Linked DNA regions of Homo sapiens: region 2 is linked to region 1. Evidence: fine-mapped expression QTL. A gene starts in region 1. The other region holds a variant in brackets. All regions are shown on one strand. Distances are between the middles of the regions. Region 1 holds the start of IFFO2 (intermediate filament family orphan 2). Region 2 overlaps IFFO2 (intermediate filament family orphan 2).

Evidence for each region. PIP is the estimated chance that this variant, and not a neighbour inherited with it, causes the effect. A credible set is the group of variants that fine-mapping cannot tell apart.
Region 2: its variant is the best candidate, but not a certain one, in a credible set for the expression of IFFO2 in regulatory T cells (Schmiedel 2018, PIP 0.59).

What each region holds. Positions count from the first base shown.
Region 1 is chr1:18,947,156-18,961,459 of GRCh38, forward strand. It overlaps IFFO2 (intermediate filament family orphan 2), which reads right to left and starts at 9,521. Exons shown (of 9, transcript NM_001136265.2): 1 at 8,513-9,521. The coding sequence starts at 9,177. RefSeq lists enhancers at 3,026-3,945, 3,067-3,196, 4,327-4,456, 4,487-4,626, 4,827-4,876 and 1 more and silencers at 8,274-8,463, 8,704-8,963, 9,534-9,703.
Region 2 is chr1:18,921,933-18,937,597 of GRCh38, forward strand. The region is part of intron 1 of IFFO2 (intermediate filament family orphan 2); the gene reads right to left. Among named protein-coding and RNA genes, the nearest start is that of IFFO2, 27 kb to the right of the region's middle. RefSeq lists enhancers at 406-986, 10,797-11,784, 13,436-13,981, 13,982-14,526, 14,527-15,072 and 5 more. The variant G/A (reference allele first, on the strand shown) is at 11,971.

The sequences.
Region 1 (14,304 bases):
AGGCACCAAACGATTGTAACAACTTCCCTGTTCCCTGGCAAAGTTCACAGCACTGACTGAAAGCAAAAGCTAGGGATACTCCAGCCCAGGGCGGAGGCGAGCTCCCAAACAGCCACCAGAATGCCCGAGGCCCTCTGCTGCTGGTGATCCGTGGATGAGAACCTCGGGCTGGCTGTGCCCTGAGGACACTCAGGGGCCGGGCAAGATAAATGGAGCATTAATTGAGAGCCTGAGATCCACAGCCTGCCCCAGCTTTGCTAGGCAACATTTCACAGAAATGAAAACTGAGGCTCACAGCAGGAAAGCGGCTTGCAATGGGCATGGCCCTTTCTGGGTACAGCACAGGATAAAGGTTGGATCTGGAGCCTGACTTCCAAGTTACTTCTCCTCTCTGAGCCTCGGTTTCCATCCTGCAGTGCCACCACCGGGTTTAAATGAGACCGCGTGGAAATCACCAGACGGGTCATAATATGTGTTCCCTGTTCCCCAACTCCTCCCCTGCCAGCCCTGCCAGCCCCCATTGAGACCTTCTCCAAAGAGCAGGGGCCTGGACAGGCCTGCTACAGTGGCCCGGGAGCCTCATCTGCCTGCTACTGCCAGTGATTCATTTGCTTCTCAAGAAATAATTTCTGTAAAGTGACAGCAGGGAGTCTTCCCAGCGCAGCAGCCGCCTCCTATTCTGCCACCCGCCATGGCAATATTGTGACAGGTGCTGGGGAGACCCCGTGCCTCCTGCCTGCCTCCTCACCCTGAGCCAGCCTTTGGCAACCTCCAGGGGCATGGGACAAGGCCACCTCCTGGGAGGAGCACTGACCTTGGGGTCCAGAGACCCAGACGGACTCGTGGCGAGATCTGGGACAGAAGTCTTCACCTCTCTGAACCTCTCATTTGTAAAATGAGCATAATCACTTCCCACTGCTTGGGACTGCTCCCATAATTATCACATATTTAAAGAAGTCATCACTGCACCTAGCACAAAGTAGGTGCTCAATAAACGGAAGCATTAAGCCATATTGATTTATTTTCAAATCCTTTTGCAAAATGTTTTCCTACTGCACTGTTTTAATTGACTTTTACCTCAACCCTGGGAAGCAGAACTCGTAAGAAACCACACCCCCATTGTACAGAGCGACAAACTGAGGTGCAAGAGATTAAATGGCATGCACAGAGTTGTGCTACATTACGGAGAGAACGTAGTCTTCATAGGGTTGCTGGGCAAGCCCACCTTCCCACTGTCCCCATTCCCACGTGGGCATAGTGAAGCTCAGACCACATCGCAGGCAAACCCAGACCAGGACCTGGGCTCCACGGACCCTCCAGAGAACCAGGCATTGCCATTTGCCAGGTTTACTGTTGGGTGAAAACTACCCTCTCTTGTACCAGGTCTAGAATGAGAAACCACATCCTGCTCAGGAAGCCAAGCACCCGGTGCCCAGTGTGGGTGGGAGGACACTCCCCTCGTGGGCAGGCGGCGGCAACATCACAAACCTTCAGCAGTCTCCCATCTGGCCTGGAATTTTCTAAACACCTCACAGTCTGGCAATGCTCAAAGGGCTGTGCAACTCACAGATGCTGCCAGCAAAGGGCACGGGACACCCTCTCCCAGTTTCCAGCTTGGTTCTCAACCTCTGCCCACCCCACAGGGCCAGCACAGATCTGCCTCTGTAGGGCACCCACTCTCTGCCCTGTGAAATCATTCTGAACTTGACTGTTTACACGCCCTGTGCTGTAGCTAGGCGAGCCTGTCTACTTCTTCCACAACCTCCGGACACAGAGCTTAGCATCCCTGTTTTACAGATGAAGAAACTGAGGCTCGAGAGGCAGTGACTAGCCCAAGCTCACTCGGCTTTTAACTCCTGCCCTGGGGCCCCAGCACCCTGCACTGCCAGGCTTGGGGGTTCATTCAAACTTTGAACTTTGGCCCAGGCCTTCTGATTCCAAGTGCAGGCCCTCCCCTCCACAAACAGCCGAATCCCTGGACGTGGTCTGTGTTGTCCGTCTTCTGTCCCATCCTCCTGGAGGCCTACTAGCTCACAGCAGCCAGACACAGAGGCCTCCCTGCTGCATGAGTATTTACTCAGCATGGACCTTGGCCAGGTCCTGGCTGGGATCTGCCAGTGGGAGACGAAGCCAGAGTTGGAGCCGGCCCCCACAGAGCTTCCAGTCGATGCAGGGGCAGACACATGCCAGGTAGTTACAACTCCGGGTGTGGGGGGCTGTGATCGGGAGGTGGTGGGTGCTTAGGACCGCCTGACAGCAGAAAGTCAGGAAAAAGCAACACATCCCTAATCCTGAGCACAGGGACATGACAGGGCTGCCTCCTTCCCGTCCCGGGCCTTCAGCCATCCGCGACATAGGAAATAAATGGAATGCCAGCCGGCCTTCACCTCTCAATGCGATCAAAAGCCAGGACTGCAAATGCAAAGCCCACAGCCTCCGGTGTCACTGACACATGGCACAGTTTAAATCAATTCTCCTGGAAGGCAACGCATCTCGTTGCAGCAAAGGGCGTGTTCAAATTCCGGGTCTACCCTTCTGTGTCCTTCAAACACGGTCATGTGTGGGGACGTGGGCCACAGGACTGAACGGAGAGTCTGGTGTGTGCATCTGCATGTGTATGTGAATGTGTGTGTGTGCACGTACATGTGTGTGAGTGTGAGTGTGCATACACGTGGGGGGAAGGGGGACCCGGGGACCCGCATCCGGTCTCGTTTGCCAAGGCAAAGCCCCGCCTCGCATTCCTCTGAGAAGGAATCTTCAGCGTCAGCTGTCTCCCTGCTTCCTTTTCTTTTCTGGGACCTCATTCCCCTCCCTCTAGCTTGAGGCTCTGAGAATCGCTCCCAAATTTGTCCCCAGTGAGAATGCCAACCCAGCCAAGGGATTCTGTAATATAGTTCTCAAGGGACCCGAGGCGCTAGATGGAGGGGTTTGTGTGTTTCTCTTAAAGGAAGTTGGGAGAAAGGGCTGGGGGATGGCGAGAGATTTCCGGAGGCACAAATCAACTGCTAAGAGTAGGTCAAACAGCCTTCTTAGATGCCGGACAAAGAAGCAGCCGTTCTCCCTCCACCCCCAACACCATCTCTGGCGCCTCCATGGGACAGAGAGAGCGGCGACATGCCCTGAAATGGACTTGTTAGGCAGTCAGGGCCATGCTGAGAAATCCTTGTAAATTAAAGGAACAGACTTTGCCAGGGGAAGGGGGCTGGGCTGGGGTGGAGGTAGGTATGCCCAAAATCTGCCAAGCCCCAGGTACCTTAACACCAGACCTCATTTGTTCCTTCTCAATCCCTGGGAGAGCAACAAGATGATCCCTCTTTTACAGAGGACGAAGCGGGGAGCTCCACGGGCAGCTCAGAGAGGCCAAGCCACTTGCCCATGTTCACACAGACAGTGGCAGAGCCAGGATGCAAAACCCTTTTCCACCATCGAAGGCTGCCTCACTGGAAAATCAGAAATAAAGAATCCGTATCGGTGCCAGCTTCAGAAATAACGAAAGTGTCAATGGGAGTGGCAGGGAACAAAGCCCTCAGCTTTCTATTCCAGGGCAGCCTTCGGGCTTCGGGACATTCAGGGGCCAGCACCCACCTGCTTGAGGGCCCCCCTGGGGTGTGACGGGAATGGGCGGGGGACACTCCAGCTGACCCACCCACCATCCCTTTTTGGAGTCCTCCATTCCAGCCGACAGCCCAGCCCCTTCCGGCTCACAGTCAGAAATAGCTGTGACAAAAGTCCCTCCCATCCCAGAAAGTGGCTTTTTAAAAAAATGTTTAAAACAGACATACAAAAAGGTGGAAAGAACATAACAAAGCCTCGACTGCTGGCGGATGATGCGGGCATCATGTCGAGGCGGGGAGGCCAGCTCTGCACGGCAGATGGAAGGTCTGTCCAGCTCAGCACTGAGGGCCAGCCCCCCTCTGGGCCTTGGTTTCCCCACCTTTAAAATGAAAGTACTCAGCTGAATCAGCGGTTTCTTTCTTTTTAAAACAGCAGAACCCTTTTTAAAATGGAATACTTTTTGGACAGTCTGGGAGTCAGAGAGGCATGGAGCTATGGTGGGCAACATGGGTCAAATCTCAGGTACTCAGCCTCCCACTGTCCCCCGAGTCTCCCAAGGCGCCCTGCTATGGACTCCAGGGCTCTAAAAAGCCCACCTGAAAGCCACCAGGCTGAATGATCACAGTGGTCTCTCCAGGCTCCCAAACCACCCTCCAATCACCCCAGGCACCAGGAAAAAAAGAAACCTAGCCTCCAGGCTGACTTCAACTGGGGGGCGCATACAGTCAGCCACTCGCACGGGAGGGAACCAGGCCAGCCAGCTGCAAATCACACTAGGCCTGAGGGGGCCAGGATGGCTGGACAGGCTTCTGGACAGGGACACCAGGCCCCCAAAAGAGTCGCCCTGTCTGATAGGCAGCTAGGCCAGCACTACTAGCGCCGGGCAACTTCCTCTACCAGCCCAGGGCAACTTCCCCTACCAGTCCATGGCAACTTTGTGACAGCTGCCAGGCTGGAGGGACCTTTTTCTTGACAGCCTTAAAGATTTCCTGCATCCTTCCTTGGAGCCAATGAAGACAGGGGAAACGGTTGAACCGGTTAAGCCTGGGGATGGGATGGCCAGCGCTGCCTATGCCTGGAGCCTGGACCCTAGTTATCTGGGGCAGAGATAGGAGAGGGAAGGGGAAGCCCAGAACAGAGAAAGGCTTCAGCGAACACAGTGTGGTCTCCAGAGGCAGAAAGATCAGCCACAACACGGGCCTCTTGGAGTCACTGACCTAAAGTAGAGAGCAAGCTGAGAGAGATCACCCACAGGAACTCCTGCATGTAAAGGTGGAGGAGCTGAGGCCCAGAGAGGGCAGCGGTTGGCCAGAGGTCACACAGCACCTAGTGGCAGAGCTGGACCTAAAGTCCAGGTCTCCTGGATGCCAACTCAGGGAACTCTCCACTGTTGAGTTCAGATAAACTCAGTGGGAAACTCCAGGGAAAAGCCCCCAGCTTGCAAAGTCAGAACAAGATATTTTAGTGGCCCTGGGTGGTGACAGAGTAGAGATGTTTGTTTTGGTTTCCAAATCAACGCTTGACAACCTCGTCCTCATTGCGGCTTCAGCGACCACATTTCCCACGTGGTAAAGACCTGGTTGGGCCAAGGGAAAACCAAAGCAGTGGTGACTGGGGCCAGGACCCAGGCACCCCAGGCCAGGGGCTCTGGTTTGGGTTGGTGTTTCCAAAGCACAGTTTGTGGACCACTGATGGCACATGAGATGATGCTCGGTGGTATACAGTTGACGTTTTAAATTTAAAATACATTGAATACCTGGGTGGATTCATAAACACAATATGGTCTATACTACAGAGGAATATTTTTAGCTATAAAAAGGAACAGCCTACAAATACATGCTACAACATGGATGAACTTCAAAAAAAATTCTCTAAGTGAAAAAAGCCAAACACAAAAGACTGCAGAGTGTATGTTTCTATTTCTATGAAATGTCCGGAAAAGGCTAGTTTCTAGAGACAGAGCAGGTCAGTGATTACCTGGGCTGGGCTTGGAATTGGAATTTTCTGTAAATGGACATGAAGGATCTTTTTGGGGGCTGATGCAATGCCCTAAAACGGGATTGTGGTAATGACTGCACAACTCTGTGAATTTACTCATCTTGACTTGTACACTTAAAATGGGCAGTTTTTGTGATATGCAAGTTGTACCTCAATGAAGTTGTTAAAATATTTTATGTACGTAATAGCACAGGCGGTAGTACATGGATGTGGCCAGAAATCATGGAGGTGGAACTCAACAAGCGTCCGGCTTGAAGATCGCTGAGCCTCGCAGCCTAAGTTGTCCTTTGGGGAAGCAAGTGGGGGTCTCTGGAGCTGCAGCTTCCTCCAGGTGGACCAGGGGAAACCCTGGAACCTTTCCCTTCTGGGTTAGGCTCCTTCTGGGCATCATTGCTTGGAGTTCTGTAATAGATATCCTGGGATGATTTAAAGCCCTTCATGGCCACAACAGTCCAGGCAGACACCTGGGTCTCATCCCTTAGACGGTGACTTCTCTTATGGCCAGGGGATCAGAAGCGGGCTGGGAGCTCAAACTCAGATTTATATATTGCCAAGGCTGGGAAGACCCTTTGAGATCATCTAGCCCAGTGGTTTTTCAACTTTTTAAAAAATGTTTATCAAATGTCTGCCCTCCTCCCCAAAGAAAATTCTTAGGGATACCCAAAACATACTACTAACAAGTTAGCATGTTAGTAGAACCCAGTGAGTTAATATTAAGAACTTAAAGGTGGGTGAGCACATTTTTATCACTGTATTAACGTCTTAATGTTCTTTTAAATGATCATTTTTATTAGATATTCAAGGAAACCCTAAAGCATCTCTAAGAAAGCCTGGGGTTTCAAGGACCGCAATTCTAGCCCCCCCTCAACCTCACTTCACAGACGGGGAAACTGAGGCCCCAGGAAAGGAATATACCTGCTTTGGAAAAATCCAACATGAGTCTTGAGTTAACTTCAGAAAATAAATGGAAGACAAGGTGTGCACGCATCCCAGAAGGGCGGGAAGAGAGACGCCCGCACTCCACCTGTCTCAGCAGCACCGTCTCATTCCAGGCCAGCGCCAGAAGCTGACATCACACCCCACGCCCTGGGTGCAACTTGAATAGATCGTTGCTCAATGCCAACCCATCTCCCTCCAAGACTGGGCACGGTTTTTCCATCACCTTAGTAGCCAGGTCCAAAAAGCACACACACAATAAAACAAACACAACACAAGCCTGAGGCATGACAACACAATCAACAGTGGCAGACAGGAGGGCCCGGCCCATCCCTCCCCAGTTTCACCATTGAGAGCAAGTGCCTGCTTCCCTAGCCTGCCCCAATGACATTGACCATGAGGGGCGGCGAGGTGGCCTCCCTGTGGCAAGGCACCAGGCGGGCCATTCTCAAGTCCTCCAGAGAAACAGGTAACCCAGGAGAGAAGCCCGTCTCCCAGTGGAGTGTAAGACCTACCCCCAGGAAGCTAGGCGCCACATGAGAGAGCTTGAGGACTCTCAGCATTTCTACTCCCTGCTAGCTTGACAAAGTGCCTATCATCTTTAATAACACCAGCATGATTACTTTATACCTCCCAAAGAGCATCACCATCCTGCTGTCTCCTCGAGCAACTGTGGGCAGATTTTATTATTCCCATTTCTCTGATGAGCAAACAGGCTTTCAAGTGATTTGATAATCTCACCAGCAGGTATAAGGCTGGCATTTGAATCCTACCCAGTTGCTAGCCTGTCCAATGGGAGAATACGGAAGGAGACCTATGCCCAGCTCCCTGGACAGACCTTTAGAGATGGAAGGAAGGGTCCTTCTCAGTACATCCTCCAAGCCCTGGAGTTCAGAGCCAATAGCTCCGAATGGAAGGCTGCCTGTGCCTGGAACAGCGATTGCCAGGGCCAGAGGGCCCCTTCCCCAGCCAGGCCTGAGATGCCAAAGACAGACCCTTCTTCTCTTATGGGAAGAGGAGGAGGATAGGAGACCCCTCTCCTCTTATCGGAAAGCCAAGCAGACAGTATTGTCGGCCAGACTGCAGACAGGAAGCAATGACAGTTTCCCAGCTGGGGAATCTGGGCTAGGCAGGAATGCACTGGCCAGTCTTGCAGAGTCTGGACCCCAGTTCTAGCCAGAGATTGTGGTCTCAGTCCATTCAATGTCCAGTCTCCAGCCCAACATTATCTTCTCCTGGGGGCTTTTAAGGCTGAGTTTGTTAGGGCTCAATAAACCATGAGACTCAGGGAGTGGGGAGAAGAGGGATGAAAGGAGGCATTTTATAAAAGCTTGTGAGCAGTCTGTTGTAGTTGTGGTTATCCAACCCAGCAAGCTGGACCTTACAGAGCTGGAGCAAGACGGCAGACACTGGCCCCAGGGGGTAGGGGCAGATCCATCCATTTTCAAAAACGTGATCTCATTTAATTCAAGAAATAAAAAGGCAGTGGGTTGGTTAGAGTTTTTCTTTTCATATGTTGAGGGAGGGGAGCATATTTCCTACTTCCTTGGTAAAAATACTTATGCTAGGAGACAGACTAGCCAGGAGTGGTTAAAATCTCTGGTTGAAATCCCGGTTTCACCACTTACTCGCCAAGCCACCTTAGGCAAATCACTTAGCATTTCTGCACCTCGGTTTCCTCATCTGCGAGATGAGGATAAGACTGCCTTACACAATACGCTGTATTGTGCTGAGAATTAAATGAGATCGCATAAAACACAGACAGTTATTATGTCACCTAGAAAACAATGTGCCTCACCAGTGACAGCATCGAGGTGGCCCCCACGGTAGCCAGCGCCCGCCCCCATCCTGGGATCTAGATAACTGGGCCTTCCTGGCGTACGTAAGACGCTCTGCAAACACAGCTTCCAGCCCACCTGCCAGTACCAGCTGCCCGCCCGGCCCCCGTCCCGCATACGCATTCCGCGGCAGCCTGGACCTGGGCGCCCCGTCCCAGGGCGGCGGGGGAGGGGCGGCCACTCACCTCCGCTTATACTCGTCGCGCTCGCGCTTCACCTTGGCCAGCACGTTGTAGAGCGCGCGGATCTCCGGCGTGATGGTGTCGATCTGCACGCCCACGCCGTCGGGGTGCACCCACGACACGCCGGGGCCCTGCACGGTCTCCACGCCGCCGCCGCCCGTGCGCCGCACCTGCGTGTAGCTCCAGATGGTCCCGGGCAGGCGGCCGTAGTGCTGCGGGTGCGAGCCGCCGCCGGGGGGCAGGCCGCCCAGGGCCACGGCATTGGCGTTGGCGCCGGCCGCCGCGCCACTGCTGAGGCCGTGCCCGCCGCCGGGCGCCGGGGGCCGCAGCAACTCGGGCCCGGTCTGCACGGCCTGCTCGCGGGAGAAGGTCTTGTAGCGCAGCCGCCGCTCGCGCTCGCTCTGCTGCTGCTCCAGCTGCTTCTCCAGCAGCCGGTTGCGCCGCTCCAGCTCGTGCACCTTAGCCAGGAAGCAGCGGAAGCGCACGTTGAGCCCCTTCAAGAGGTGGATGTTGGAGCCCAGGTCGTCCCGCAGCGCCGCCGTCACCGGCGACGGACCCGGCCCTGCCCCGCCGCCGCCGCCGCCCCCGCCAGGGCAGCCCCCGCCGCCGCCGCCCGGCGGGCAGCCGAAGGCCAAGGCCATCTCCCCGAACAGCAGCGAGTTCACCATGCGCCGGCTGCGCGGCTCAGGGCCCCGGGCCCGCGGCTCCAGGTGCGGCTCCAGCTCCGGGCAGGGCTCCCGGCGCGGCCGGGCCAGGGTGGGCGCGGGCTCCAGCGCGGCCGGCCGGGCGGTTCCAGATGCGCGCCAGATGCGGCCTCCGCAGAGACGGCAGGACGGATGGCCCCGGATGCGGGCGCCGAGGCGAGAGAGGGCACTCGGCCGCTCCTCGGGACGCGGTGGAGGCCGCGGTATCTGCGCGGGGCCAGAAGGGTCGCGGGTCTCACCGCCCGGGCTGTCAGAGACGCTGTGGAGGGGCCGCGGCAGCCGCACGCAGAGGACTCTCGGCCGGCACTGCCCCTTCTGCGGCGGGCCCCGCCCACTGCAGACACTGGCCCCGCCCCCGCCGCGGCCCCGCCCACCCCTCCTCCCTCTGCGGCGTTCCCCGAGCCCGAGGCTCCGCCCCACGAGGCCCGCAGCGCCGGGCCCCACCCACAGACCCTCGGCTCCGCCCACCTCCGGGTTCTCCCGCTTTCTCCGCAGCATAGACTCCGCCCAGCTCCCCGGCGGGGCCACGCCCTCTCCTGCGTCTGGTCCTGCCTCCCCGCCGGGTGCCGATTCTCTGCTGGGGGACCCGGACCGCAGAGCTGCACCAGGGACCGGGTTAGCTGGAACCGCCGCAGAGCCAGCCGGGCCTCTTAAAGGGGCCAGCAGCCTCGGCAACGCTCGCTTTCCACTTTTTAGGGCGCTCCTCTCCCACGTCGCCTGCCGAGAGGGCTCCGTTTCTCTGTCCTCTCTGCCCGCAATGCCCCTGGCCCCAAATTCCTTCGGATGTGCGCGACCGCGGCTGGAAGGGCTGGGGGACCACAGTATCCGAAGGTGCATCGGCACCCCACCCCCACTCTAGCCTGGGGAGGCCCAGATCGACCTTTCGGGGATAAGAGGGCGCCCGTGCCCCACGCTGCGGACCCGGGGGTGGGCTCCTCGAATGCTAGCTGCGGGCCTTGTCCTCTCGAGATCGGCCCGGGCACAGCTAAGCCCGCTGGTTCCCCCGCCCACTGAGGAGCCGAGCAGCATGGGGGTTGGGGAGGCCGAGCAAGACCCTCCCGGGATGACACCCACAAACTCGGCCTGGGCCTCGCCTCTGCTGAGCTGCTCAGCACCTCCCCACCACCCACACCCACACGCTGAGATGAAGCTGACCCCGAGAGCTGGGGATTCATTTCACAGACATGGGGCTTAGCGGGCCGCCTGGGGCAGACCGAGGCAACCCGAGGACCCATTCATTCATTCATTCATTCATTCAAATGTTTTCACACCTACCACGTTAAAGGCCAAGTTCTCCAGTCTCTGGTGTCTCCTGAACCGTGTTGCAAACATTAGTATATGTCAGGCGCCATACTTATTTATTATCCCCATTTTACAGAGAAGGTCACTGAGACGTTAAGTAGCCACAATGGTCCAAAGTGCATGCTCTAACCGGCCTTCCACAATGCTGGCCTCGGGCCTCGTGTCCATTTCCGCATTTGGTCCTCACCGCAAACCTCAGAGGGGAGGTGACCCCCACCTTGAACCCCCACCTTTGAACGCCTGTGGCTTGCATTGTATGCACTTAACCAGATATGTGGCATGTTTCAGATACTTCCGACTGCATTTTTTACTAGCAGTTTAATTTTTGTCTTGTTATTAACTTTTGTGTTTGTTTTGTCTCTTTGTATGTAAGCTTGAGGACAGGCACACTGTCTTACATGGACAATGCCTTGGTGTTCTTGGTGACAAAGGAGACACGGGCTTGCCCTGGAGTGATGTGGCTGTGATGTTAGTCTGCTGTGTTTTTGATTTAGCCACAAAAGCAAACCTTCCCCATAGTTCCTTCCCTCAACCACAGTTCCTTGCTTCCTGCCAACACGGACTCACCTTAAACACCCAGCTCTGAAACTCACTCATCTAGAAACCTTTCTCTGCTTAACCCAACCCAGTCTGGACACTGCCCTTTACTCTTCGTTCTCTCGTCTCTTGATGATGTTCTTGTTTATCTAACCTAAGGAATCAAAACCCCTTTGCCTTGAAGCAGAGGTTCATGGACCCCCAAGAGGACTGAGGATAGAATTCTGGGGGGTCCATGACACAGGGGTGGACAAAAGTTATACCTTTAGCCTCACTAATCTCTAAAGGCTTTGTTGTCTGTTTGTTTATTTGTTTGTTTGAAACAGAGTTTCACTCTTGTTGCCCAGGCTAGAGTGCAATGGTGCGATCTTGGCTCATCACAACCTCCACCTCCGGGGTTCAAGAGATTATCCTGCCTCAGCCTCCCAAGTAGCTGGGATTACAGGCATGCGCCACCACACCCGGCTAATTTTTTTGTATTCTTAGTAGAGATGGGGGTTTCTCTATGTTGGTCAGGCTGGTCTTGAACCCCCAACCTCAGGTGATCCGCCCACCTTGACCTCCCGAAGTTCTGGGATTACAGACGTAAGCCACCGTGCCCAGCCAATGGTTTTTAACATATCCTTTGATTATGAATGTAGGCAGCAAGTAGATGTCCCTGTGATTTTGTCACTAGTAGAAATCACAGGTATTTATGTAACACACTACAGTTATTGTAAACATCTCAAGATATCATCTAAGCTACGAGAACTGTGAAATTAAAGTCATATTAGACCGACCACTAAATCTTATTTAATGTATTAGTAAAAGAGAACGTATGTTACTATATGAGAAATTGTTAATAGTTTGATATCTATTTTTAGTAAAATGACTTTTCATAGTAATCCTAATGCCTTTTTAAAAAAATTATTCTCAGAAGGGGTCCACAGGCTCCACCCAATGCCTGAGTGGTCCCATGGAAGAGAAAGGGTTAAGAAGTCACACCTGGGGAGTGGCTCCCTGCAACCTCTTCCAGGAAGGATCTGTCCTTCCAACAAAGTTGCCCTGGAATTGGGGTGTGCAGCCCTCCTTGAGGGTGGGGGCAGCCCTGCCCTGGGCCCTGGAGATATTCAGACTTTCCGTGATGACTTGTGGAGCACCTGCTTCGGCACAAATCCTGCATTAAATGCAGAGGAAGGAGCTAAAGGGGCTCCAGGGGAGCTGATGGAGACAACCAAAAAAGACCATCCTGAGGCATGGGAGTGGGTGCAGAGGGGGGAAAAGGAGATGGCCAAGCAGAGCCCAGAAGATCTGAAGGAATTGAGGGAAGTGGTAGCTGGACCTGAGAGGGTTTTCAGCTGAACCCTAGAAACATGATATGTGCAAACAAAATGGCTTGAAAATAGCTTCGTGGCCACATAGGAATAAAGGCGGGTGCTGCGTGTCTTGCTCTTTGTGGGTAAAATGTGAGGTTAGGTTAACCTAACAGTCCTCCAGCTAGGGTGACCAACCATCCCAATTTATCAGGAACTGAGAAGGTTTCTCTTGATGCTAAAACCTGGAAAGTAAATCAGAACGAGCAAATCAGAACAAATGTGTCACCCTACTTCCAGCCCATATCAATCTGGAGGCATCTGAGGCCAGAAGTCCTATAGTTCAGGATACAGCCAGCCCAGATTTCTTGTTTCAGGGACCAGAAAACTGAGGACCACAGAGAGGTAAGGACTGACCCAGGTCTCCTGAATAATTGGTATCAAAGCCTGGTCTGGAATTCTGGTCCCATTCCCTTTCCAATGGTAGGTCCTCCCTGGCCCAGACAATGAATTCAGTGGTCTCCTCCCCTTAACCCCAGACACTGGCAGGCTGGCTCCCCCATTCAAGATCCAAAGGGGGCTAAAGGTGGGTCCTCAAGGCAGCGGAAGAGTTCCAACAGACAAAGGAACATCCCTGTGGGGGACGCCAGCCTCCTCTCACTAAACAAGGATAATTAGGTTTTTGTTTTTTGGCAGGGTACCTCCCCTTGACCCTCAAAGTCACAGCGGTGTGTCTAACCTGTCCAGACTGTTTTTGGAGGCAAGAGTGGGGAGTGGAAAAAGGTGGGCTTTTAAGACAAGAGATTGGCTAAGGTTTGTATCTAAGTCACTTTACCTCTCTGAGGCTCTATTTCCTCATCAGGGAAATGGGCATAACTGCTCTCAATGAACAGTTGCTGAATGAATGAATAAAAGAATTAAGAAATGAATGAGAAAATGACTTTTATTCTTCCTGCCCCACTCCCCAGCCATTTCACCTGCTAACAACTCCTCATCCTTCAGGTCCCAGCCTCAAGCACGGAACCTTCTCTTCTCGGAAACTTCTCTTCTCGGAACCTTCTCAAGTACCTGCCAGGTCTGGGTGGAGGGTGCTTCCTCCAGGCTCTGCCAGCACTGCCCACCCTGTGGCAGCCCCAAGTATACGCTCTTGTCATTGCTGGATTTCTCATCTGCATCTCCACCCCTTCTAGCCCAGCCTTCTAACACTTGCTAACCCATATTCTCTATTAGAGCAGAAGCACTTGATCAGATTCACCCTGGAACCCATATCCTGGCATGGTACCTGGCACATAATAGGTGCTCAACAAAGATGAGTTCAGGTGAACAAATGAATGAGCTGTTAGTTACTGGAGAAATTCCTGTAAAGTGGATCATGGCTGCTTAGGAAATGTTATATTTGCAGAACGTAATTGCATTTCTTTTTTTTACTTTATTGAGGAATATTTTACATATTATGTAATTCACCCATGTCAATGGTTTTTAATAAATTTACCAAGTTGTGCAAACAACGCTATAAACCAGTTTTAGAATATTTCATCATCCCCACTCCTACCCCCTGCCCCAGACAACCGCTAATCTGGGATCTGTCTCTATGGAGTTGCCTTTTCTACATATATCAGATAAATGACATTTTACAATATGTGATCTCTTGTGTCTGGCCACTTTCATTGAGCACAATGTCTTTGAGGCTCATCCATGTGGTAGCATGTATCAGTAGTTTGTTCCTCTTTATAAATGATCTCTTTTTAAATTTCAATAGTTTTAATTTTTCCTTTTCTGTACTCAGTTCTTCATCTGGAAATAAGACTATAGGACTATCTGACCTGGGGCCAGGTGCAGTGGCTCACACCTGTAATCCCAACACTTTGGGAGACCGAAGCGAGTGGATCACTTGAGACCAGGAGTTTGAGACCAGCCTGGCCAAAGGCTTAACACCGTCTCTAGTAAAAATGCAAAAAAA
Region 2 (15,665 bases), 25 kb before region 1:
TGGGACTGGATGATATTACCAATTCCAGAACCACCTTCACTGGGACTTACTTTGTACCAGGCACTGTTCTACATGAAGTTAATTCAATCCTCGTAACAACCTATGACGTAGGCACCGTCATTATCCCCAGGTGCAGAAAGCAAGGCCCAGAGGCACAAGCTGAACCCAAGGCCAGGGTGAGATAGTGTGGAACTAGGACTGAAACCCAGGTGGGGACGCTCCAGACTGGTTGCTCAGAATCCCCTTGCGGAGCTCCTCATAGACCCAGGAACTGTCAAAGCCTAAAGGCCCTAACCCAGCTCCTCCAACAGAGTTCCTCCCTCCCTGGAGGAAGCTGGGGGCAGGTTCTTTCCCTCCTCGGATGTCTGTCCATCCTGGGACAGACAGAGGAGTTTCTTTCCTTCCTCACCCCACTGCTACCCTCCCTACATGGCCTCGGAGCAGGGCAGTCTGGAACCCTTTTAGGATGCTGTCAGGGCCAGCTAAAAATAGGCCAGAGGGGAGGGAGGGGTGGAGAGCCGGTTACGTCACCGGCTTTTGGAAACAAGAGAAAACGGATACTGTTTGCACACACAGAGGAAAATTCCTCCTCTCTCCCACAGGAGACAGCCCAGCCAGGGCTCCTGGAGGACACACACTCTCTCCCTCTCCCCCTTTTCTCCAGCCTTTCCCAGCCCCAGCATTAGCTGTTAGGCTGAGATCTGCGTGGGCTCCCGGGCCCGGACCTGGAGGGCAAGGGGCTGGGATTCCTTCCAGGGCTGGAGGGCACAGAGAAAGCTAAGAGGGGGCAGGGAGGGAACCTAAGGGCCTAATCCAGCCAGGACCATCTCACTGAACCTCCCCTCATTGTACAGATGGGGCAACTGAAGCCGAGTGGTCAAGCCATTTGCCCACATCACCCAGTATATCAGGAGCAAGGCTAGGAGTCCGGTCCCAGGCCACCTCTCACCGAGAAGAGCAGGCCCCATGTTGGGGACAGGAATCACAATGGGGGGAAAGTTCCCAGGCCACCCCATCCCTGCCCAGGAGCACAGGGCATCTGGGGCTTCTCTGGGGGGTAAAGGCTGGAGCACAGGTCCCGAGCTGAATCATCTCTCCTGGCCACACGGCTCAGAGCGGGGAAGGCGACTCAATTCCAAAGCCGCTGAGCAGGGCAGGTGCAAGGGCGAGCCCCGGCAAGCCTCTGGCTGCAGCCTGGAGTCTAGAGCGAACCTGCTAACACATCTTGCAGCAAGAGCAGGAGTAGCAAAGAAGGGCACAAAAAATAAAGAATGGCATGGCTCCTCCCTTGGACGCAGGCACCCAGGGGCACCTCCCCGACACTCCCCATTCCCCAGAGGGGCCCTTGGGAATGAGGCCCAGCACCCCTCACTTCTCCTTTGAGCAACCATCTCATGAGGAAGGCGAGGCAGGGGCCAATAGAACCCTTGTACAGACGGAGAAAACGAGGACCAGAGAGGGAATGAGACTTGCCCCAAATCCACCCAAGGTGACAGCAGGAGCCCAGATCTTTGGCTTTCCAGACACAATAACAGCAACAGCACCAGCAACCATTAACTGGGGGGTACGTTCTGGGCCCCACACACCCGGCTCACTGCCTTGGACACACACATCACTGGCTTGAATGTGAATTATTAACCCTCTTGGGGAAAGAATTTCTAACTAAGCCCATCTTGCAGATGAGGGAGCTGAGGTTCAAAGAGGTAAAGTAACTTGTCTAAGGTCACAGAGCTAGCAAGCAGGGAGCTGGGACTCAAAGCTAGTCCAGTCTCTAAAGCAGCGTGTCTCAGCCTAGAATGTGCATACCAATCACCTGGGCATCTTATTAACATGCAGAAGCTGGTTCCGCAGGCGAGGGCTGGGGCAGACAGCTCCCCAGTGATGCTGGGCTACAGATGGCACTGAGTGGCCAGGCTCTGAAGACCACACAACCCAGCCCCTCCACCTCACCTCTCCCTTCCTGCCCCGAGTTCTGCACCCTCCCAACCCCACATCTCAATCGTGTTTCCTGACTGCACATACCACACCCCCAGGATGAGCTTGCACAAATGATTTCACGGGCTTTTTATTTCCAAAGCCAGACGGGGGAGGCAGCCGGCTGGCCTGCTCCCAGGAGGTTGAGGACAGACCCCGCATGTGGACAGCAGCTGGCTTGACTGAAGAGCCTGTCGCCCGCCCTGACATCCCTCCCGGCGGTGGTGGAGAAAACCTGGCTCCGCCAGCTCCAGTGTTGACAATGCAGAAAAGCTCTGTCCTTGGATCGTTCTGAGGACTGGCATGAAGGGCCAGGTGGGCGATGTGTTTCTTACGGCACTCCAGACACCTGTATTCCCTGCCCACCCACCCAGAGCCAGGGAGCACTCAGCTTAACTGAGAACTGGTGAACCAAGTTGCTGGCACAGAGATTTCAACACCAGCTTCCCAAGCACAACCCTCCCTCTTCCCTGGGTCTGCCCACAAGAGTAAGGTTTCAGTGGGGAGGGTGTTTCAGGCAGAGGGACCAACAGAAACAAAGAGGGCAGCAGGAAGGGACAGGCCAGGCGCTGTCTGCCACCAAGAGGCGGGTGCACCTACTTTGGATCAGCGGTTTGCAGACATCGTTTCCTTTCAGCCTGCACCATCCCCTCTCCCAGCCCCAGCCCATGGCTGAGCAAACGACTTGCCCAAAGACTGCCTAGGAAGTGGCAGCGCCTGGATTCGAACCCAGGTCTGACAGAATCCTACGCCCGGGCCCTTTAAGGCTGAAAGGGGAAGGAAGGCTGGAGTGAACATAAAGAGATCACTTTTGGGGCACAAAGGCCATTTTCCTCGAGTCTCCCTCAGCAGTCCAGGAGCTGTTCTGTTGGCTGGGGAGGGGTCCTTTCTGGTCTTTTGAAGACTCCAGAATATTGACAGGCCTGCCACTGGCAGAAAATGAGGTGACAAACACATCCCAGTGCTCTCTGCAGGGCCTTTCCATAGATCCCCTCCATCATACTGCACATGCACTGGGCTGGAAAGCTACCCTGTCCCCACTTTACAAGTGGGAAAATGAAGACCCAGGGCCTATGGACAACTCCAGCCACGGCTGACACGGCCTGAATCACTGAGAGCCGCCCCTGCCCACCCTGACCCAACAGCTCATAAAACTTCCAAATCCTTCTCTTTTCTAGCGCTGGATGAGAGAAGGGACATTTATTGATTACCTTCTCGGTGGTATCCACCACATTAGGCACTCATACTTCCCTCTATAAAATCCCGCTGAGCCCTCCCCTGGGGATCATCCCCATGTTGCAGATGAGGCTCAGAGGTCAGGTAACTCATTTCCCCTCTTCCTCTCTCCTCCTCAGCCTCCTGAAACCCTAGCCATTCTCCCAGGCTTGTCTCAAATGTCATCTCTTCCCCAAGCCTCACATCCACTTCCATTGTTTGCCCCACAGCTTAAAGCAGTGGAGGCCCCAGGATCTCCTCTTCCCCAGTGGCATGGTTGTGGGATCCCACGGCACACAGCTCTTGCCCAAAGGAGCCAGTCCCGTGACGCCAGGGCCAGTGATGGCTCCATTGTGTGGTCACCGCCACTTCCACCTTCCCCACCGCCACCGGGGGCTGGCACTCATCTCGGGAGGTCTCAGGCACAGAGATGGGGCAAAGAGGAAGCAAGAGGCAAGTTCCCTGGTCTAGGTGGGAAAACAGGCACAGGAGCCGGGTCTCAGGTCGGGGGTCCAGTCCTTCTGCAGGCCCAGAGAGCTGGTTATGATGATCATTCCTGTGCTTGCTACTGTATTCCCTGCACCTCAAACTGGCTGGGCACTTGCTAAGGAGTCAGACATTTATCGAATGGATTGGTTGGATGGATGGATGGATGGATGGATTGGTTGGATGGATGGATGGATTGGTTGGATGGATGGATGGATGGATGGATGGATGGATGGATGGATGGATTGGTTGGATGGATGGATGGATGGATGGATGGATGGATGGATTGGATGGATTGGTTGGATGGATGGATGGATGGATGGATGGTTGGATGGATGGATGGATGGATTGGTTGGATGGATGGATGGATGGATGGATGGATGGATGGATGGATTGGTTGGATGGATGGATGGATGGATGGATGGATGGATGGATGGATGGATGGATTGGTTGGATGGATGGATGGATGGATGGATGGATGGATGGATGGATGGATTGGTTGGATGGATAGATGGATGGATGGATGGATGGATGGATGGATGGATCCAAAGCTGCACTTACTCCTCAGTGCCCTGATGGCCCTCGCCTCCAGACAGAACTCCTTTCCCCCAGAGCATCCTTAGACTGAACATCCCAGCCCAGGGGCTCACAGGAGGCAAATTCCCAGCATAGCCCCTGCACTCAGCTTCATCCATTCGGCTCCAGAGCCTCTCCTGGGAGAGGCCAGGCCAGGCCAGGGGGAGGGATGGCCAGGGCAGGAAGCAGGCAGGAGAAGGAGAAACCTTCCCTTTCCCACTTCCCACAGCCCTGGGCCAGGGAGGGGAGGCAGGGATGTCAGAACAAAGAGTGCAGGGAGAGGAAATGACTCCACAAAAGCACAAAGCAGCTGAGATCAGGGGCCTCGGCCACCATCTTAGCAGAACAAGCACTCTCTGAGGCTGGTGGCCAGGAGGGAGAGGTGGCAGCACCACCCCAGCCAGATGTGGTCTCTCCGCATTCCTGAGGAGCCACCACTGGAACCACGTGAGGGACGAGAAGTCTCTGCTGGCCTCTGGGGAAAAGGGGTGGGCAGATTCTATGCCAGTCCCCACCCCCACCCCACTCAGGGCCAGTGCCTCCCCCTCTCCCGTCAGCTCAAGATGACACACAGACCCGCAGGAAAGGGACCGACAAGCCTGCCCTACAGAGGGGCGGAAACCCAAGCTGAAGTCACCAGCAGAGGGGCTGACTCACAGATTTTTCACTTCCTGTGCAGTCAGAAAAAGAGGCTCGAGGCTCCCGCTCAGGAGGAAAGTAGGTGCAGGCCCAGCAAAACAATGAAGCCCTCCAGGGACGAACCTGGGGCTCCTGGAGTGAGCATCCCAAGACACCAGGGCAGCAAGAGACGGGTTCAAATCCTGCCCCATCACTTCCCAGTTGCGTGATCTTGAGCAAGTCAGTTACCCTCTCTGGGCCTCAGTTGTCCCCTCTGTGAGTTGGGAAACCAGCCACCCCCTTTCGAAGGTGGCTGTGAGAACTACAGGAAGGGGATGGTGTGGGTAAAAGCACCCTGGCATCCAGCAGACCATGGGTGTTCAGCAGCTCCACGTCAACGGCACAGCGCATGGCTGCCTCCCACCTCCAGAGTTGGGAGGGAGGTGTGGAAATGGCCCACACCTTGCGGGAAGGCGAGCGGCCGGCACGCCTAGGCCGACTCACTCAGGTGAAGGGAAATGAGCTCAGGTGAGGCTGGGCTGGAGCCCTCAGTGGAAGACTTCATTCTGGGCCAAGCGTGGGCCTGGCCTCTGGCAGAGGGCAGGTGGGGGCAGAGAGCAGCTTCCTTCCCGGCGGGTGGAGGGCTGGCACCTTCTCAGCTCCACCCTGGCCTCGGGGAGCTCACCCCACTGCAGCAGGGCTGGATGCAGGTGGCCAGGGAGCTGTGCTGGAGCCCGGCTGCTCAAACCACAGATTTGGCCCAGCCAATGCCCCTCAGCTCTGCGCTGCCCTAGCTCCTGTGTTTGCCCACCTGCAGATGCACAGAGGCATCCTCACAGCAGAGCCAGGGCCAAGCCTGGGGGCCCCAATCAGCTGTTCTTCTCTAAAATAATATCTGAGCTGGAAGAAGAGGCTGCAGGCACAGTGGTAGACCAGGGGAGCCCTTTCTGCAAATGCAGTTTTGCAGAAGCTGATGGATTGGGAAGACCAGAGCAGGCTCCCCGGTGGGGTCAGGGCTGCGTGCCCCCAACAGCCTCCACTTGCTTCTTCTGAGCCCTTCTAGAGAACCTGAAAACCACAACCGAGTCAACTTCCTCCTTGCACACCATCCCCCTCGAATACCACAGACAATTCATATTTAAGGCAGAAAGAAAATCCGATAAGGGAGTGGGAGTGGGGCAGGGCTGGGAATACAATGTGGAAATCCCGCCACCACTGCTAACACAGGGCTCACCTCCTGGGCAGCTCAGCACTGATGCACGTGTGGATGCCTTGCCTCCTGACTTTCTCTCCCACATGGCACGCTGCAAGCCCGTCTTCTCCCCCGAAAATGGACAGCCAATAAGCTCTAGCCCCTGCGCATGAAAGAGGCCCCCTCCTGCCTGCCCCAAGCCCCACCCCCTGGGGACACCTGGCACCACCTCTTGTGGCCTCCCGGCTCCCATCTCCATGGAGCCCCTGATCCCAAGGAAAGGCTGTCTCGCAGACGTGCCCATCAGAGCCCGGCTGCCCAGCTGTACTCTCCAGCTCTCGGAAGGAAAGACAAATTAAATGCCAACTGATTGTCTCCACGGAGGAGGTATTAATTTAATGTGAACACTTAACCAGGGCAGCCGATTCCATTACAGGCGGGCAGTAATGGCCTGAGCAGGACGGAGCACAGGCTGTACACTGAGGATGGGGGCCAGGTTTGAGAAGCCACTAATCAAGTGTGCCCCCAGAACACTGCCACCCACACAGACACACAGAGCTGCTTTCAACCAGAAACGGCAGCCTCCTCCAGGGATCCCAGCGTGCCAGGTCTGCGCAAGGCTGCTCAGGGGAGAGGCAGAGGGGTCTGACATCCATAGGGAAGTTCCCTGTGGAAGAGCGGGTACTGGGCTAGGAAGCAGGAGGTCCTGGTTCATGCCCTGGCTGCGTTGCTAATTTGCTGCATGACCCTGAGCAAGTCCCTTCTCTGCCCTGGGCCTCAGTCTCCCCATCTATAATAGGATCTCCCAAAATCCCTCGGGACATGACATTTGCAGTGTTATTTGCACGCCCTGGATAGGGCCCTTCCTTGGAGTCCAGAAGTGGTGACAGCCTCAGGGATACCAACTCCATCCGGAGTTATCCTGGGTGCCATCAGGGCTCTGACAGCCTGCACTCAACAGCAGACACCCGCTGGGTGCCCTCTCCCAGAAGAAGCAGCAGCGTGGTGTGGGAGCATGCATTCATTCGTTTGCCCCTCACTCATTCATTCCATAAACAGTTCCTGAGGGCTTGCCACGAGCCCCGCAGGCCTTAGAGAGTCAAAGGTTGTAGGCAATTCTGCAGAAGGAAGGGCAGGTGAGCTGAGAAAGTCATCTGCCTCTGTGTGATCCCCTGAGGGCCTGCCTACCTCAAGCTAGGAGCCTCAGTCTCCACTTCTGTAAAACGGGGATAGCAATCCCACCTTGTAGGGCTCATGGATGGATCAGGAGAGCAGGCTCAAGTGAGGCACACAGATGCCCTTGACAGATGATGCCCATGCTCTTCACCGGTGTCACCCTGGCTCTACCCACCTGGGGGAGGGAGGGGCAAATGGGTGGGTGAAAGTCTGGGCCCCCTCAGCAAGGACACTTCTCCAACCTGTCCTGGCCCTCTGGGGACCCAGGAGCAACTGAGAGAGGCAGCACTGAAATCGAGTTGCTAAGGAGTTTTCCCAGCAAGGAGGTGAAAGTGAGTCCCATCGCCAGGCAGGGGGGATGAGCTGTGTGGGGTCATCACATTCCCCCACCTGACATTCCCCTCACCTGACATTCCCCCCACTTGTTTCCTGGTGACCAAGGGGCCCTTTGCAGGGCAGCTAGCTGGTCTCTGGGCTCTCTGTGGTGACTTGAGAGGTGAGAGGTGAGTGGGAAAGAACGGCAAGCCCCTAACTGGGCTCCGGCCCCCCAGCCACACACCCCTTCAGGCAACGAGGCAGCAGCCTTGTGCTGGAAGTCCTGAAGCTAGTCCTGCCTCTGCCCCAGCTGGCTCCGTGATCTTGGGCAAGTCCCTTCCCCTCCTCTGGCACCACTTTCCCATCAGTAATGCAATGATGTCAAACTGGATGAATTCTAAGGGCCCACCCAGCCAAGCCAGAAAACAACTGCCATGATCCCTGGACAAGCATCCTACACTGACCACAAAGCCGCCTGACAAACCACAAATGCTCAAAAGCCAGCTGAGACGTCTGTCCTTGCGTTCCAACCAGTGTGTGTAGTGGAGAGGGGAGCAGGGACTCTGGAGCCAGAGGGTCCTGGGATCAAATCCCAGCTATCCATCTTGCAGTTCTGTGACCTTGAGCAAGCTATGACCCTCTCTGGGCCTTGGTAATACCTCCCAGCTCCGAGGGGTTTTGCCCACATTCCATGGAATAGCATATGAAAAGTGCCCAGAATAGTGCCTGGTCTACCATGAGCATGCCATTGGTGTCATTCTCATCCTCACGACCTCCCAATGACAGCTGCTCAGAGAGGTGGGGAGAGGCTGGGAGAATGCTCTTGGACCACATCGTAAGTGAGGGGGTCAGACTTGAACCCAAGGCCATCTGACCCCAGAGCCACTGTCTGCATAACAGTCATGTTGTTGATAGTCATGGTAATGAGCTAGATGCCGCCTTCACCTGGCTGGGTGGCTGGCAGTACAAGGGGACAGGGTGGCAGAAGGAAAGAAGCCAGATGCTAATGCCACAGAACCCCCGTCAGCAAAACCCACTGAAAACCCTGCTTTCACCGTCCACACCCCATAGACATACCCCAGGAACTAATGGGCATGCCCAGCCCTTTGAGGTCTGTCCTAACAAGGGCCACTGTGGCAGCAGGTGGGTCCAGGGCAGGAGAGCCCAGCTGGTCTCATGGCACCTTCCAACACACACAAGGCATTTAAGGGTATTCACCCAGGCCAGCTGCTGGCTCTTTTGGGCAACATGGGGCCCAGGGAACCCCCGGGTCACCTGCCCCAATGCCAATCTGAGGTTTCAGTTGTTTTCTGAGCCACCTGTCCAATTCCCTCCTGTCTATATTTGCCCAGGTTCCCAGCATCACTGCCACTTGGTATTGCTTATTGAACACAACTTTGGAGAGGCTGAACATGGTGGCTCACGGCTGTAATCCCAACACTTTGGGAGGCTGAGGCAGGAGGATCATTTGAAGCCAAGAGTTCAACACCAGCCTGAACAACATAGTGAGATCCCATCCCTACAAAAAATTTTAAAAATTAGCCAGGCATGGTGGCACGCACCTGTAGTCCTAGCTACTTGGGAGGCTGAGGTTGGAGGATCCCTCGAGCCTAGTAGTTCAAGGTTGCAGTGAGCTAGGATCGGGCCACTGCACTCCATCCTGGGTGACAGAGTGTGACCCTGTCTCAAAAACAAACAAAAAACACCTTTGGAGAAACTGCAGCTCTGTGGACACCCATAATCCCAAGCAGCATGCTTGGCAGTGCCCTCCTCCCACTGCTTCTGTCTAGAAACTACACCCACGTGGGCACTCCCCCTACCCCTAAAAAACCAGGCCACTCCAAGGAGGAAATTGTCTCAACCAGCATCTCACAGTGAGGAAAAATCTGCATCACAAATTGCAGGCCACCATGAAGTTTCTGGAGTACCACTGCCAGCCTCTTCCAGGCTTGGGTACCCCTTCATCACCTCCTCCAGGGAGCTTTTCATGACTTCCCCAGAATAAGTCACTATGCCCATTCTGATGTTCCCAGTCCTGAACCCACTCCTTCAGCACTGGCATCCAGGGGCTGTGAATTTTCACTTCCCTGTCTCTCTCATCAGACTCCACTCTTCTACGAGAAGGGAAGAATTTGCATTTATTGTAAAATGCTGATTAGGTGCTAATCATTCGACACCCACCATCTCTAATTCTCACCACAGTTCTGTGAGCCGGATGTTATCATTCCCACTATACACACTCAGGTGAAATGACCTGTTCAAGGTCAAATCCAGGTCCATATGGCTCCCAAGCCTGGGCAGCCTCTCTATGGTCTGATGGTGTCTCGTCGGCTCCATAAGCCCCACTCCCTGCCCACACCCCCAGCACATCACTTAGAAAATGCCCCTGGGTTACAGTGCCACGGTCAGATGCACAGATGTGTACACATGGGGTCACAGTCACTGACCTGGAAACAAAGCCACTTTGCCCATGCACTTATTTCTCAGCGCCAGAGAACCCAGGGTGCAGGAAGGCCTCGGCACACCACCACCTCCACTGCCAAGGCAACGAGCTGGGGCCGGCACGTGGTGAGCAAGAAAGGCACCAAGCTCTGGAGCTGGACGGAACAAGGCTCAAATCCCAGTGGTACCAACCACACGCTCCCGGGCAAGTGATTTCCAATCCCTAAGCCTCCCCATTTGGTCATCATAAAGATCCCCCCTGCCTCTGGAGGCTGCTACAGTTTGTGAAAAGGAGGGTATACACAGGCTCCGAATAAACGGAGGCTCTCGTCCCTTCTCCGCCTTCCCTGTCACTGGCTCCAGGGTCTGAGAGAGCAGCAACCTTGTTTCTCTGGTCTGTAAAATGGTCTGTTTCTTTCTGGCTCCACTGCGCTATGGAAATCGTGGGGTTGCGGGGAGGCTGCAGCTTGTCATCCAGCCCCCAGGCACTGACTGCAGAGATCCCACCCCTGACCCCCCCAGACTGGGATGCCAGGAGGGGCAGAGGATCTGCACTTCTGAGCTGTGTGCCTTGAGCCAAGCACTTGACCGCCTGTGCTCCAGGTCCCCTAGCTTTGAGCAGGGGCTAACGGAAGAACCTGCCTTGCCAGGTTGTTGTAGTAAATGAGTCAACACACGTTTCACACTTAGCACAGTGCCCAGCTCCCAGTAAATGCTCAATAGATGGAAGCTATGATTAGTCATGGAACACGGCCTTTCTGCTGTCCTCCCTGCCATGGAAAATGGGTAACTCAGCTGGAGGGCAGTTCCTCTGTGTAGACTGGCCAAGGCCCCGGGGATGAGGCAGGGTACCTGGGTGCCAAACCAGCCCCCTCTGCTACCAATGCTCGGCAACACACCGACAGTCAAGACACACAGGAGGACGTCCCATCTCCCTTGTATCCAATTCGGCACCATATCCCAGTGCCTGGCACAAGACCTGGCACCAAGAGAGCCTTCATGAGCGAGCGTTGGGTGTTTCTGGAGACACCCAGGCCCGGCAGCCCAGAATATCTCCCACAGCCCAACTCAGGCTGGCTGCCGGCTTACATTTCATCTTCTTCCCCCAGGACAGAATCAACAAACATTTCCCAAGTGCTCACCCAGGAGCCAAGTGCTGGGGACACAGAAGTGGATTAAGAGTATTCTCTTCCTGCTGAGAGAGGGGAGGCGAGTTCCGGAGCTCTCGCTGGGGCAGGACCTCTGGCTCCTCCAGCCTCAGATCCTCAATCCCTTCAACCCAAGAAGTGTGGGAAGTTCTGGGCACTGGCTGCCTTGTGCCAGGCAAGCAGGGATGGAAGGGAATGCTCACCCTGGGACAGGGGGCATCTTCCTCCGTCCATGAGTGAAGGGGCCCCATCCAAGTTGCCACTGCCCATTTGTACCCAGGGGCACGAGAAAGGAAACCAAGCATCCACCATCACACTGAAAACATTGGTTCCCTTCAGCAGCGACGTGGGTGGCTGGGGATTATGGGGTAGAACTGTCACTCTGTCCCCTCTGTATCTTTTCTTAATACACATAACAGGCCAGGCACGTTGGCTCACGCCTGTAATCCCAGCACTTTGGGCAGGTGGATCACTTGAGCCCAGGAGTTCCAGACCAGCCTGGGCAACATGGCGAAACCCCATCTCTACAAAAAATTTAGCCAGGTGTGGTGGCACCGCTTATAGTCCCAGATACTCAGGAGGCTGAGGTGGGAGGATTGCTTGAGCCCAGGACCTCAAGGCTGCAGTGAGCCAAGATCGCGCCACTGCACTCCAGCCTGGGTGACAGAGCAAGACCCTGTCTCAAAAATAAATAAATAAATAAACCATATAACATAGAATTTACCATCTTAACCATTTTTAAAGTGGCATTAAGTGCATTCACACTGCTGTGCAACCATCACCTCCATCCATCTCCAGAACTCTTTCATCTTGCAAAACTGCAACTGT[G/A]CCTGTTAAGCAGTAGTACCCCGTACCCCTCTCCCCGCAGCCCCTGGCAACCACCCTTCTACTTTCTGTCTCTGTGGATTCGACTTCTGGGTACTTTGTATAAATAGAATCAGATAGTATCTGTCCTTCTGTGAATAGCTTATTTCTCTTATTTCTTTTTTTTTTTTTTTTTTTTTTTTTTTGAGACAGCGTCTCACTCTGTTGCCCAGGCTGGAGTGCAGTGGTACAATCACACAACTCACTGCACCTCCACCTCCTGGGCTCAAGCAATCCCCCTGCCTCAGCCTCTGGAGCAGCTGGGACTATAGGCATGAGCCACCATGCCCAGTTAATTTTTAAAAATTATTTTTTGTAGAGACGGGGTTTCACCATGCTGTCCAGCAGGTCTCGAACTCCCGGGCTCAAGCAATTCTCCCACCTTGGCCTCCCAAAGTATTGAGATGACAGGTGTGAGCCACCGCGCCCAGCCTGGCTGATTTCATTTAGCATAATATCCTCAAGGTTCATCCATGTTGTAGTGTGTGTCAGAATTTCCCCTCCTTCTGTATCTTTTTAATTTTGAATGATGTCATGTATACCTGCTCAAAACATCAAAACCACTTAAATTTTTAAAAGACAAAAATACCTGCTCGTTTTCCCCTTGCTTTAAATTGCATGAGTGTTTACAATGATTACACAAGAAATAGAAAAAGAAAAAAACAGGTAAGCCAGATAAAACCAATGTAAAACCCACCCAAATGAATCCCCCTCCCTGAGAGAATTACGGTTAACATCGGCTCTATATCCTTCCCAACTTTTTCTTATGAGATTTTCTCTTCTTATGAGATTGGTTTTTAACGACAACGGGATGCGACCATATGTGGTTTTCAAATGCATTTTTTCCACCTAACAATATACGGCAGCATCCTCCCGAGCAGGTGACACAGCAGGTGGCTGCAGGGCCACTGGTTTGATGGGTCCTCCACTGTCAGCGCAGAGTCCTTGCAATCTAAACAAGACTGTGAACACCTTTGTACCCTCACATTTGCATATGTGTCCAGGTATCCCTCTGGGATACCCAGATTGGGTTTCTGGATCAAGTGTGCAGATGTAGAAAAGGCTTTTGTGCCCCTCTAAAGAGCCATGTGTGACGTGTTAGAGAGAACGCTCTCTGGCATTCTCTACCACAGGCTCCCAGTTGCCCAGGGAGCCAAGGAAAAGCAGGGTCCTGGGCCCTTACTCCAGTTCCTGCAGCAACAATGTTTTGTGCCTTAGTTTCCTCATTAGTCAAAAGATTGCCTCCGTTGGGTGCAGGAAGACTCCGCTATAAATACTGTTCTTCCTCACCAGTGGCCCTCTACCTTCCCCAAGGAGCAAGGGTTGGGAGATCAGGCTCATCTGAGAAATGGGCCAGACACTTCTTCTCCAAAAGGGTAGACAGAGGTCTCACCTGGTGGGTGATAAGCCCTGGAGAACAAGGCCACGTGCTAGGGTAGAGTAAGGCTGAATAGCATCCCCCCAACACCTCCAGCCCCCCTGTGCCAAGCTCCATCACACCTCCAAGGCATGGGCTGCATTCTCTGCCCAACAGGTTCTACACCCCTTCCCCTTTGTCCTTTTCCTCTCTCTCTCCCTTACCTAATGTGACTTCAGGACCCAGCTTATAACCCCCTCCAGGAGGCTGACCCGACTCCTTGGTCAGGGTCAAGTGCCACTATTCTGTACTACAAAGGCTCTGGGCCACTTGGTATTGAGGTTACTGATCCCCTGCTGGTCTCCTCTGCTTAACTCATCTTTCTTTTCTCTCTCTCCTTCTGTCTTTTTTTTTTTTTTTGAGATAAGATCTCGCTGTGTGCCCAGGCTGGAGCACAGGGGTGCAACAACAGCTCTCTCGACCTCCTAGGCTCAAGGGATCCTCCTGCCTTAGCCTCCCAAGTAGCTGGGATTATAGGTGCATGCCACCACACCTGGCTAATTTTTCTATTTTTTTTTTTTTTTTTTTTTTTGTAGAGACAAGGTCTCACTATGTTGCCCAGATTGGTCTCAAACTCCTGGGCTGAAGCGATCCTCTCGCCTCAGACTCCCAAAGTGCTGGCATTACAGGTGTGAGCCACTGCGCCCGGCCCTCATCTCTTTCAAGATCAGGCCCATCTATGGGTCACAGCTGCAACTCCAGTGCCCAGCACAGAGCCTGGCACATAGGAGGCCCCATAAATATTCACTGGATTAAAAAGGCCCAGTAAGTGTCATCTCCAGGGCCTTCTCTAGGAGATCCAATCTAGGCCAATGCAGCCCTGTCGCCTTAGATATGGCCACCCTGCCAGCCCCTCCCTGCCAGCCTCAGTTTCCCCAAACAACCTCCACAGTCCAGGCCAACTCTGCTACTCTCTTCTCTGCACCTTGAAGCCTGGGCCTACCTTGCATGGAGCAGATGATGGGAAAGTTGGTGTCCACGGCTCTCCATCCCTGGGACATTGTCTTTCTGCCTAGGCCTGGCCAAGCCCCCATGGACCCTCCACCCCATCCCCATCCCGTGTCTGCTGGCTCTTGCTTAAGTGGAAGCCAGCAGGGGGTCTGGGCAGCAGGTCTTTGGGCACTCAGGTCAAGAGGCAGGAGGCCCAGGGGGTCTGTGCCCAGGAGAGTGTGGGGGCCCCCAGGCCCAGGGTTATGTTTACAGCTTTGAGAAAAACAGCAACTCCCAAGGCTATTTTGGAAACCTAATATGTACTTTGGGTCTCTCCACTGTTTATTCCAAGTGACTGTGCTGCCCTGGAGGTAAATGTAGGGCACCTCAGGGTAATCTCCCGCATACTTACTCACCCGCAGCCGCCCTGGAGCCAGCTGCCTGGGAGCCCAGATTTTCCTTATCATGTGCAGCCTGAAAAAATGAGGGGCTGGCAGCCAGGCAGAGCCCACCAGGCAAGAGTCAGCACACCTGGGTTGAAAGCAAGGCTCTGCGGCCTTAAGCCAAGTCACTTCTCTAGGGCTCAGTCTCCTCACCTGTAAAATGGGTGAGAATGACCCCACCTGGATTCAATGAGGATGTGCAAACACAAACTGGCTGCAGGTGGGGCAAAAAAAAAAAAAAAGCACAGAACACAGGATCCTAGGACATCAGACGGGGAAGTCCAGGTCATTCATAAATGAGAAGTCTGAAGCTCAGAGGTGGGAGGTGATATGTCCAAGGTCCCACACAGGCAGCGGCTGGCTCAGTGCAACTCCAGAGACTAGGAGCTGCCTGCCATGCCGCTGGTAAGGGGAGGAGAACATTCCAGAGCAATCTCCAGGAGGGAGGAGGGAAGAGTGACAAGGACCCAGCTAACAAAAGACACGTGGGGCTTGTGCAACCAAGGATGGGTAACAGGGCAACGGTCACCTGTCTGTGCAGAGCCGTCATGGTCCTCACTAGCTGGGAAGGGGCAGGTTCCAGCGCAGCTGAGGCAGGTAATTAGACTGCAAACACGCGCACCAAAAGAATTAGTGACTAAATACAGCTCAAGGGGATGGACTCATTACTTAATCCCAGGCTCCTGTCATCATGGCGGGCCCTGGCATTCCACCTGATGTGAACCACTGGGGAGTGTGGAGGCTGAGCACCAGGCAACCCCACAACACACAAACAAGAGTGTTCCTCCCAACTACCCATGGGGCTGGAGAGAGAAGTCAGTCCCCTTAAGATGAGACGGGGAATGAAATGGAGCAAAGCCTCCCAGGGA